Regions from separate parts of the Homo sapiens genome. Here region 2 is linked to region 1. Evidence: fine-mapped expression QTL. A gene starts in region 1. The other region holds a variant in brackets. All regions are shown on one strand. Distances are from middle to middle. Region 1 holds the start of MLYCD (malonyl-CoA decarboxylase). Region 2 has its middle 14 kb from the start of OSGIN1.

The links. PIP is the estimated chance that this variant, and not a neighbour inherited with it, causes the effect. A credible set is the group of variants that fine-mapping cannot tell apart.
Region 2: its variant is the best candidate, but not a certain one, in a credible set for the expression of MLYCD in thyroid (GTEx, PIP 0.79).

What each region holds. Positions count from the first base shown.
Region 1 is chr16:83,896,976-83,902,349 of GRCh38, forward strand. It overlaps MLYCD (malonyl-CoA decarboxylase), which reads left to right and starts at 2,140. Exons shown (of 5, transcript NM_012213.3): 1 at 2,140-2,697. The coding sequence starts at 2,170. RefSeq lists silencers at 1,910-2,339, 2,640-2,809.
Region 2 is chr16:83,936,141-83,941,514 of GRCh38, forward strand. No RefSeq gene overlaps it. Among named protein-coding and RNA genes, the nearest start is that of OSGIN1, 14 kb to the right of the region's middle. The variant T/C (reference allele first, on the strand shown) is at 3,128.

The DNA of each region.
Region 1 (5,374 bases):
CGCTGCTATAAAGAAATACACGAGACTGGGTAATTCATAAAGAAAAGAGGTTTAATCGGATTATGGTTCCACAAGCTGTACAGAAGACGTAGTGGCTTCTGCTTCTGGAGAGGCCTCAGGAGGCTTCCATTCATGGCGGAAGGCAAAGGGGGAGTGAGGAGCTTCACATAGCCAGAGCAGGAGAGAGGGGGTGGTGATGCACACTTCTAAACAACCGGATCTCCTGAGAACTCACTGTAGGGTACCAAGCGGGGATGGTGCTAACCCATTTATGAGAACTCTGCCCCTATGATCCAATCATTTCTTACCAGGCGCCACCTCCAACACTGAGGATTACAACTAGACATGAGATTTGGTTGGACACAGATCCAAACCATATGAGCTATATTAACAATATTACATCTTCCAATCCATGAACCATGCATGGACCATTCCATTTGTTTAGGTCTTCTTTAATTTCCTTCAATACTGTTCTGTGGTTTTCCATCTACCAGTCTCACACTTCCTTGGTTAAACATGTTTCTTTTATCCCTTCAGATGTTGTTGTAAATAGAATTGTTTCTTTAATTTCATTTTTGGATTGGGGCAGTCTTTTGAAATAAGGACATGAGTGGGAAAAAGCAGAGGATGGCTGTTGACGCCTAGAGAAAAAAGTATAAACACAGAGAAAAAAAAAACAGAAGCCAGAAATTACATAAAAAGGAAGGCACCGGGAAAGATGAGAAAGAACAGGGTTGTGGGAGTACTACACTTAGCAAATGCTTAAGCAAAGTCAAGCTTTCAAGACAAGATTCCTAAAGCAAGGCAGGAGTATCCTAGGACAGACAAAAGCTCACTCGACAAGGCAAAGAGACAAACACCAGAGTTTGGACCCCACCAACTCCCTTAGCCAGCTGGCAATATGGTTTCACCACTTCTTAGAAAAGAGGAATGGAGAGGTGTCCTCAAAAGCCACCACTAGGCTTTCAGAATGTTTTGTGTGTCTGTGTCTTGGCAGAATGAGCCAAACGTACTTTCTTCGTGCCCCATAAGATGAGACACACCCAGCAAAGGCTGTCCTCATACAGAACTACCTCCAGGTGTCTTTTATACTGCAAGACCTGCACCAAAGGGTTCTACCTATAGAAATCCTAGCACCTAGACATAGTCAACCAAGTACATGGCTCCCTCACCCTCCAACCAAAGATGCCATATTTCCATCAGAGTGGAACAAAATCCCACTGTGTTCCTAATGCCTCCTGCAATTTTGCATGTGGGAGACATGGCTGGTATGTGACATTCTCTTCTACAGATTGTAATGGATTGGGGAAGGAGGGGGAACTAGAGTTCAGGCCTATCTTTCTAGAGGACAAAATAAATATGCCTTGATAACTGCAATTATCTGAAAACTATTTCAAAGAAAACTCTTTGTCTCATTCTGGCATTTGCTCAAGGGTATGGCTTTCCATCAGTCTCTCTGTCTCCATGTCTCTTTTACATACATATGTATGTGTATATGCGTGCGTATGTGTACATACATCCATACATATAGACATATTCTCTCTCTCTCCACACACACTCACACACCCCTCCAACCTCTGTGGCTCTGAGCGTCATGTGTGTAAGACACTGACGCGAATGGTGAGTGCCTAGGCAGGGGTCAAACAAAGGCTACCTACCATGCCAGAGGATTGCCACAAACACCTCTTAAGCAAGCATATTCCTTGGCTCCTCCCAGACACACTGAATCTGAATCTCTAGGATTCTGATTTCGGAGCCCAGGAATCCTCCGGTGCAGGAGTTCCCAGGTGACTCTGATGCACCGGGAGGCTGGAGGCGCTCGGATCTAGAGAGGAGGCGGCACTTGTGCAGTGCAGTCGGGAAAGAGAGGAGGGGCTGGGCCGGTGCCTTTAGGCGGTCAGGTGTTAGGACCGGAGTACAAGCCGCCAGCCGCGCGGGAGCAGGCCCCGAGGCAGCCCAGCCGCGGGGCAGTAACCTTTAGCCACACTTGGCCTCCGGCCGCCGCCAGAGCCGCTCCGCCCCCGCCGCCTCGCCCCCACCGCCCCGCCCTCCTATTGGCCGCGTCCCCAGCCGGGCTCGCGGCCTCGGCCAATGGGGCCGGCGCGCGCCGGAAGCCGGAAGCGCGGCAGCGGCGGCGGCGCTCCCCCTCGGCAGCTGTTGTGGGGCACCATGCGAGGCTTCGGGCCAGGCTTGACGGCCAGGCGTCTCCTCCCGCTGCGGTTGCCCCCGCGGCCGCCCGGGCCCCGGCTGGCGAGCGGGCAGGCGGCCGGCGCCCTGGAGCGGGCCATGGACGAGCTGCTGCGCCGCGCGGTGCCGCCGACGCCGGCCTACGAGCTGCGCGAGAAGACACCGGCGCCCGCCGAGGGTCAGTGCGCGGACTTCGTGAGCTTCTACGGTGGGCTGGCCGAGACGGCCCAGCGGGCCGAACTGCTGGGCCGCCTGGCGCGGGGCTTCGGCGTGGACCACGGCCAGGTGGCGGAGCAGAGCGCCGGCGTGCTCCATCTGCGCCAGCAGCAGCGGGAGGCGGCGGTGCTGCTGCAGGCCGAGGACCGGCTGCGCTACGCGCTGGTGCCGCGCTATCGCGGCCTCTTCCACCACATCAGCAAGCTGGACGGCGGCGTGCGCTTCCTGGTGCAGCTGCGGGCCGACCTGCTGGAGGCGCAGGCCCTCAAGCTGGTGGAGGGGCCGGACGTCCGGGTAAGGGGCCGCCGTCGATCCCCCGGCAGCGCGGACTGGCCGCCCTCCTCGAGTAGTCCTCACTTGCCCCCTCCAAGTCCCACACACCCCGCCTTCCCTGCCCGATAGCACGCTCACTTCGCCCGCAGTTACCGCCTGCCAACTGTGTCCCCTTCCCACGCTGTCTGAGTCCTGGCCTCGTCAGAGCACACCCCCGCCTTCCTCCAGTCTGTCCTTGAAGTCCTCACTTGTATAGTGTTTACTAAATACTCAGCACTTGGTGGTCTTTAAGGTAGCTGTCACCTCTCGTACCTGATTAGTGTGTGCTCTACAGTCTTTTGAAATTATTGTAGCTGAGAAGTGTTTCATCTATATGGTATACCTGAACTAGAGCATCAGGCAGCCTTCTGAGACCCTGGATGGTGTTTCAGAAGTTCACTGGGCACCCGCTATGTGTGAGACATTGTCCTGAGAAGTCCTGTGAAATGCACAAAGGTAAATAGGACTCAAGGTCACCACCACCACCCAGGAGTCTCCATGGCTTCTGGCCTTGTCTGTGCTCCATGACTTTTGGGAGGGCATTTAACTCCCTGCGTTCAGTACTTAATGTGATGATTCTGAGTTGACTTGAGGTAATCAGGCATTAGCACAGTTCATTCATGTTAAATGCAGACACATACTTTGAGATTTAAATGATTATGACCCGAAAGAAGGCCTAGAGCAACATATACTCTTCTTTTATACTGTTAGTATTAAATACGGCGAAAAACTAACCTGCCCTTTTTTTATTTTTATTTTTGTTGCCCAGACTGGAGTACAGTGGTGTTATCACGGCTCACTGCAGCCTCGACTTCCCCAGGCTCAAGCAATCTTCCCACCTCAGCCTCCTGAGTAGCTGGGACTACAGGTGCAGGCCACCATGCCCGGCTAATTTTTTTTTTTTTTTTTTTTTTTTGTAGAGAGGGCGTTTCACCATGTGGCCCAGGCTTAACCTGCCCTTTTAATGAACGAAAAATGACGTAAATGTTTCAGGAAGTTTTGGACATTCAGAAGTTTGTTATGTGCAGTTGGTGTTAAAAAAAAATTGAACACTTGAATGATTATGACTTGACCCATTTAAGAACTCTAATACTGGTTTAATAGTTTACATTCCTTCAGTCTTACGTGGGTGATAACACGTATCCCTTTTACAGTAAAGGAGAACATGCTGAGGTTGTGTTACTTGTCCTGAAATTCAGAGCGAAAAGCTCTTGCTGATCACCCACCCTAATCCAGGGTTATTTGCACTACGCTTTATATCACTGTCTTACCGTTAATCAGATGTTTATTAGAAACTTTCTTTTTTGGCTACTTAGATGCATAAAATTGGGCATAATTAAGTATGGGATTAATGTCAAGAGTGACAACAGTGGCCATGATTTGATTCCCCGTGATAGCTGGTTAATTTACAGCGCTAAGTGTTACTGAGGGCCAGGCATCTTTGGCCGTAAGATTCTCAGACAGAAAGCCCACAGTTGCTAATTGCATGACACAGAATCAGTCATGAATTCTTACTGTGTTGAATTATCATGTTCTGGGCTCAAGCCTAGTCTGAATAGCTGAGTTTTTCTGATCCACACTTGGACATAGTACTTGCAGTATATCATCCCCCCATGTAAATGATCAGCTCCTCGAAAACTGGGAAACTTGTCTTTAAATTTCTTGCATAGCAGAATGATGAATGAATCATTGCAATAGATTCCTGGGTGTCCTGGCATAAGACACACTTGACACACTAATCATTCAGCATTTGTGTGGAGGTGAGTCTGCCCCACACTCAGTCATAGATTTTTGAGCCTGAGAGAAAGCCATGAAGGACTTGAAAGGTTTCTGCCCAGCTGAGAGGGTCCTCATATCAGACATTTGGACAGCTTTGTCCCTCATTGATTTCTCACATCCGGTCCAATTCTGAATTCTCTGGTTCTGTGAGATGCTGTGGAATACATCCTTTTGTTCTTCCCCACTCAAGAAAACTCTTGGTTATCGCGTCATTGGGAAGGAACACGTTGCATGGCAACTGAAGACACTCACATCCAGACTTGACTGTTGAGAGAAAGGAGCTGGCCCCTGGGAAATACAGAGGCTGCTGAGTCCTTAGACATTCACAAGTTTCCTTGCTTTTTGACCAAGGCTATTTACAGAAGGGAAAAAAACATTGCATACTGTAATGCTAGGCCAAAAGTCCTGTGGACCAGAGGTGTTTATCAAACAGAATGAATAACGACAGTCTGATCTTTGCCTCTGCATATGGTTTGGACATAATGGCTTCAGGAGCCTTTCTGTGATTGCTTTATTGTGCCCCTTCCATTTCTTTACCTAGAAACCCCAGCCTTATATTCAGTGCATGTAACTGTTAGTAGCTGAACCTATTAATTCCCTTCCCCTTCCCTTGTTCTACGTAGTTGTTTTCTCATATATACACATATATATGTATGTGTATATGTGTGTGTGTGTGTGTGCGTGCGTATATATATATATATATATATATATATATATATATGGTTTTTTGTTTTGTTGTTTACGGTTTTTTGTTTGTGTTTATTTTTTTGTTCATGTTTATGTTTTTTCTTGTTACGTTTCCCAGGCTGGTCTTGAACTCCTGGCCTCAAGCAAGCAATCCTCCAATCCCAAGTGCTGGGATTATAGATAGGTGTGAGCC
Region 2 (5,374 bases), 39 kb after region 1:
TGGGCAGCACCCAGAAACCCTGGACCTCTGCCAGCTGCAGACTCTTCCTAATCAGGGGAAAAGACCCCGAACCCAGGCAGGCTGACCCAGCATCCAGACCCAGCTCTGTCTCCCCAGCTCCTCCGCTGCTAATAACAGTAATAATAACAATGGCAGCGACCATTGCTGCAGAGGTTACTGTGTGCCAGGCACCATTCCCAGCGCCACCCGTCATTCTCAGTCACGGGAGATGGCTGCTGTTTTCCTCTCCATTTTGCCCTGAGGAAACTGAGACCCAGAGTGGTTAAGTCACTGGCCCAAGCCACACAGCCGGGAAGCAGCCCCTGAGGCTGGTTCCTGACTCCACTGCCTCTCGGCCCTGTGGGGTCAACCCTCTGTCCCCCTCTCCGCTATTGCCATCTTCACCCCCAGAGCTCCACACCCTCGGGTCCTACTGCTGACCTCAGACCCACAGGGCCCTGCCAGCCCCCAGGCCTCTGCCTGTGCTCTTCTTTCTGCCTGGAGTGCTCTTCCCGTGGCCGGCTCCCCACCCACTCCTCGGGCCTCAGTGGAAAAGCCCCCTCTTCACAAAGGCCAGCCCTGGTGGCCCATCTTCCCCCCGCATCAGGACCCCGTCTCGCCTTCCTGCTCACTCATTCATTGAATGCAACTGTACTGAGCATGCGCTGAGTGCCGTCTGGGCCAGGGATGAAACAGAGAATGAGGACAGCGCGGTCCCAGCTTTGGCAGACCTGACCTCCGGCACAGGGTGTGCGTTCTTGGGCACAGCTACCAGCATGGCCGGTGCTGTCATCTGACCTTCTCCTTTCCATCCTCCTTCTTAAATATTCATGAGCTCATGGGATCGTGCCTGAGATTAGCTGGTCTTCCCGTATGACCCTGGAGAATCACTGATCGTCGTCGTCACCCAAGTGAATCCTTGTTGCGCTGCCCCTAGGTCCCCCTCATCTTGGGCTCTCCCCACCCAGCATCTGCCATTTCCACCCTCAGGAAATCCCTCCTGCTCCTCAGTGGGAAGACAGAAGCACCAGAGTGGCTTCAAAGGTGAGTCCTCAACTGACAGAGCTTAGGGCCGGTGTGGCAGATGGCATGCCCTGAACTGGCTCCCATGCTTCCCAGAATGGCCGCTATCTGTGGAGTTCTGTGGAGCACAGGCCTAGTTTGAGCCCCTCAAGACCAAGTTTTGAGTCTCCTCATTTTACTGGTTTCTCTTTTCTGAACATTTTCCAACTTGGTGTTTCCATTAAGCTGTGGGGCTCAGAACGTGGTTTCATTGATCAATGACAAATCAAGCAGGACCATCACCTCCCACATTCTGTAGACTATGCCCTTATTAATGTGACCCAAGATTGCAATATAGAAAGATCATCATCCTCTTGCCTCTCCCACTGATCCTAGCTCTAAGGCAGTGGTTCTCCCCAGCCTACACAATGCAATCATTTGAGAATTTAAAAAATCCAGGATTATCATCTCTGGAGATGGTCTCAGGTGATTACGATGGGTAGCCAGAACCAAAAGATGGAGATGCTGCTGTCCCATGGCCTCCTAGTCCTCTGAGCCCCAGCCACTATCCCTAACTCCTTAAGTCCCTGGTCTCCAGGAGTTTAAGGGTGACAGTCGGCATTTATGCCAGCTGCTAACCATGGTTCCCAAAGTGTGTTCCAGGGAGCAGTAGTGCTGCAGAGTGCAAAGCTGCACATCTCTTTCCAACTCCACTGTTCAGAAGTATTACACTGGTAACGTGACATTGATCATGGTGGGAGTGTTCACGCCACAGATATTGGTGGACTGCAAAACAGGGCTTTCCACAGTGCCCCCCAAGGCTGGTGGTTGGTGGTGGTTGTTTTTTCTTGACATGGAGTCTCGCTCTGTCACCCAGGCTGGAGTGCAATGGCATGATCTCGGCTCACTGCAACCTCCACCTCTCACATTCAAGTGATTCTCCTGCCTCAGCCTCCTGAGTAGCTGGGATTACAGGTGCCTGCCACCACACCTGGCTAATTTTTGTATTTTTAGCAGAGGCAGGGTTTCACCGTGTTGACCAGGCTGGTCTCAAACTCCTGACCTCGTGATCCGCCCACCTCAGCCTCCCAGAGTGCTGGGATTACAGGCGTGAGCCACCACGCCCGGCCCCAAGACTGGTTGTTAAACATTTGTCAACACAGCACTGTCCTGACCACCCACTCCTCTCACCCTCTGGACTCTGTCACAGCCACCCATTGATCAAAAGCAACCAGAAGCCAGCTGGCCAAAGCGCGTAAGGGTGCAGAGCCTGGGGCTCAGCCTCCTGGAGCTCAGAGCAGGACAGAGGAGGTGGAAAATGGATGGGGGAAGCCAGTAGAAAATGATCAGCCTGCCCACACCTGCTCTCAGGGAGACATGACACGTGCAGTCAACATGTTCCTCTGCGTGAGGCAGACCTGCATGCCAGCACTGAGCCAGGCGACCACCTGGTAGCTGGATGATCCATCAAGGAGGCTCTGGTGCCCTGCTTATGTAATAGACCACGTCAGCCCCATGTACTAGAACCTCTTTTTAATTTTTTGGAATAGTGATAACATCTACTCAAAGAAAACGATGCTCCATTTTGATTGATTCATCTCTGACACATTCCTAGGCCAGGAGTCAGAAGCTCTCACACTTGAGCATACATCAGAACCCCTGGGTAGGGGGGAGGTTAAGAACATGATTGCAGCCGGGCACGGTGGCTCAGGCCTGTAATCCCAGCACTTTGGGAGGCCGAGGCGGGTGGATCACCTGAGGTCGGGAGTTCGAGACCAGCTTGATCAACAGGGAGAAACCCCATCTCTACTAAAAGTACAAAATTAGCTGGGCGTGGTCGTCCATGCCTGTAATCCCAGCTACTTGGGAGGCTGAGGCAGGAGAATCACTTGAACCCAGGAGGTGGAGGTTGTGGTGAGCCGAGATTGTGCCATTGCACTCCAGCCTGGGCAACAAGAGCAAAACTCCGTCTCGAAGAAAAGAAAAACGATTGCTGCGCCCCAGAGTCAGACCAGTGTTTCTGATTCTGTGAGTCGGGAGGATGAAGGGTGCCCACGAACTTGGATTTCAAAATCCCCAGGTGCTGCTGTCCTGGCACGCCACTTTCAGAATTCACTGCTGCATG[T/C]AGACTAAACTGTAATACTCCCCTCCTCTGACAAAGCCAAAGTGGCTGGCTGTGTTATCACCCCAGCAGGCATGGAGGAAGGGCCGGGCCTCCTCCTCGTGGATCTAGGTGGCGTGCGTGGACCAGGGTTTGCAGTGAATGAAAGGCCAGGTGTTTGCAAAGAGGGCACCAGATATGGGGAGCCCTGGGCGACCTGCCCAGGAATCCTCCATGAGGTGCCGGGGCAGTACTGCAGCCCATGTATTTCAAGGATATTCAAACCGAAATGTCCTGAATGTCAAGGATAACTTGCCGAGAACAAGAGGAAGAGGCCTTGTCTACTCAGAAACCAGGAACTTACAGACCAAGCCCCACCCCGGCAGAGGAAGGAAACAGGAAGTCGGAAGAGAAGTCTAGGGAGAGAAACAGTCACGTCCAGGCTAAGGAAGATGCCACATGTCAAGGCAGAGGAATTTGCCTCTCAAAGCAGGAGTGTGGCTGAATCTCAGAGACACAACATCAAAACAAACCAGACGCAAGAGAGGACACTCTGTGTGATTCCATTTATGTCAAGCTCAGAACAGGCAAAACTACTCTGTGGGGACAAAAAGCAGAAAGGGGTCAAAAAACTGAGGGTCCCAGGCCGGGCGCGGTGGCTCACACCTGTAATCCCAGCACTTTGGGAGGCTGAGGAGGGCGGATCACGAGGTCAGGAAATTGAGACCATCCTGGCTAACATGGTAAAACCCCATCTCTACTAAAAATACAAAAAATTAGCCGGGCGCTGTGGCGGGCGCCTGTAGTCCCAGCTACTTGGGAGGTGGAGGCAGGAGAATGGTGTGAACCTGGGAGGCGGAGCTTGCAGTGAGCCGAGATCGCGCCACTGCACTCCAGCCTGGGCACAGAGCCAGACTCCGTCTCAAAAAAAAAAAAAAACAAAACTGAGGGGCCCCAAGGAAGGCTTCCAGGAGGCTGGGCGTACTCCCCGTCTTGTCCTGGGTGATGTTCACAGGAACAGGCATCTGCAGAGATTCACGCTGCTGCCCCCTTCAGCGTGGAACTCATCGCTCAGCCTGTGCCTACCCACACTCAGTTCCACGGATTGACTGCATGTTTGCTGAGGCCTCCTTGTCCTGCTGGGCTCTGGGGACACAGCTGGGGAGGAAAAAGTCACCATCCCTGCCCTGACTGTACAGCATCCTCAGCGACAACACGAACCCAGTGTGCTCAGACAGCCCAAACCAAGGTGGCTTCGAGGAGGCAGGTGGAGGTGGCCAGAGGATGCCGGTCAGGAACTCGGAGGAGTTAGCAGGGTGAGAAGATGCTTTAGAGATCTTAGAAGACAAGGAGGCTCTCCCCAGGAGGGCGAGGGAGGGACTTGTGCTCCAGGCAGAAAAGACAGTTTGTGCAGAAGGACAGAAATGGCGTGTCCTCAGAGGACAGTGGGCTTTCAGTACGGCTGGAACATGAGGTCCAAGGTGGGAACGAGTCAGAGGTCCAGCTGAGGAGACCCGCAGGGCTGGGGGATAGGAGGTCTGTGGCTCAGCTGAGTCTAAACTTTTCCTCTGAAGGCCGGGCAGTCATCAAAGCGCTGTAAGCAAGGGAGGGGCGTGGCCTGCTTTGCAGGTAGAAAGCCCGCTTGGTAGCAGGGAGCAGGGGGCAGGATGCTGAAAGGCTGCTGTGGAAACCCCGGTGCAGTGGGGGCAGCCCTCTGGAAAAGTGGGTGCAGTTTCTAATACACATCACCCTCACCTTCCCTGTGGCCTAGAAGTGCCGCTTCTCAGTCTTCACCCAAATGCCCAAATGAAAACAGATGGCACACAAAGACTCCCATGGGAACGGCCCGGCAGCAAGCTGGTGACAGCGAGCCTCCATCGCCGGGAAACAGAGCTGCAGGTGTTCAGGCAGGGGACGGGTTCAGCAGTGAGAAGGGGGAACCGCTGGTCTGCACATCGGTGTGGTGACCAGCAGAGACGCAATGTCGAGCCACAGAAGCCAGGCACAAGAGAGAACGTCCTGCGCGGTTCCATCTATGCCAACATCGAGAACAGGCACAACTGATGTATGGGACGGAAGTCAGAAAAGGGGTTGACTGCTGAGCCGGGCCCGGTGGCTCACGCTTGTAATCCCAGCACGGGAGGCCAAAGCGGGATGATCACTTGAGCCCAGGAGTTTGAGACCAGCCTGGGCAACGTGACACGGGGCACACCGGCAGGAATGCCTTCTTTTTTTTTTTTTTTTTTTTTTTTTTTGAGAGGCAGTCTCACT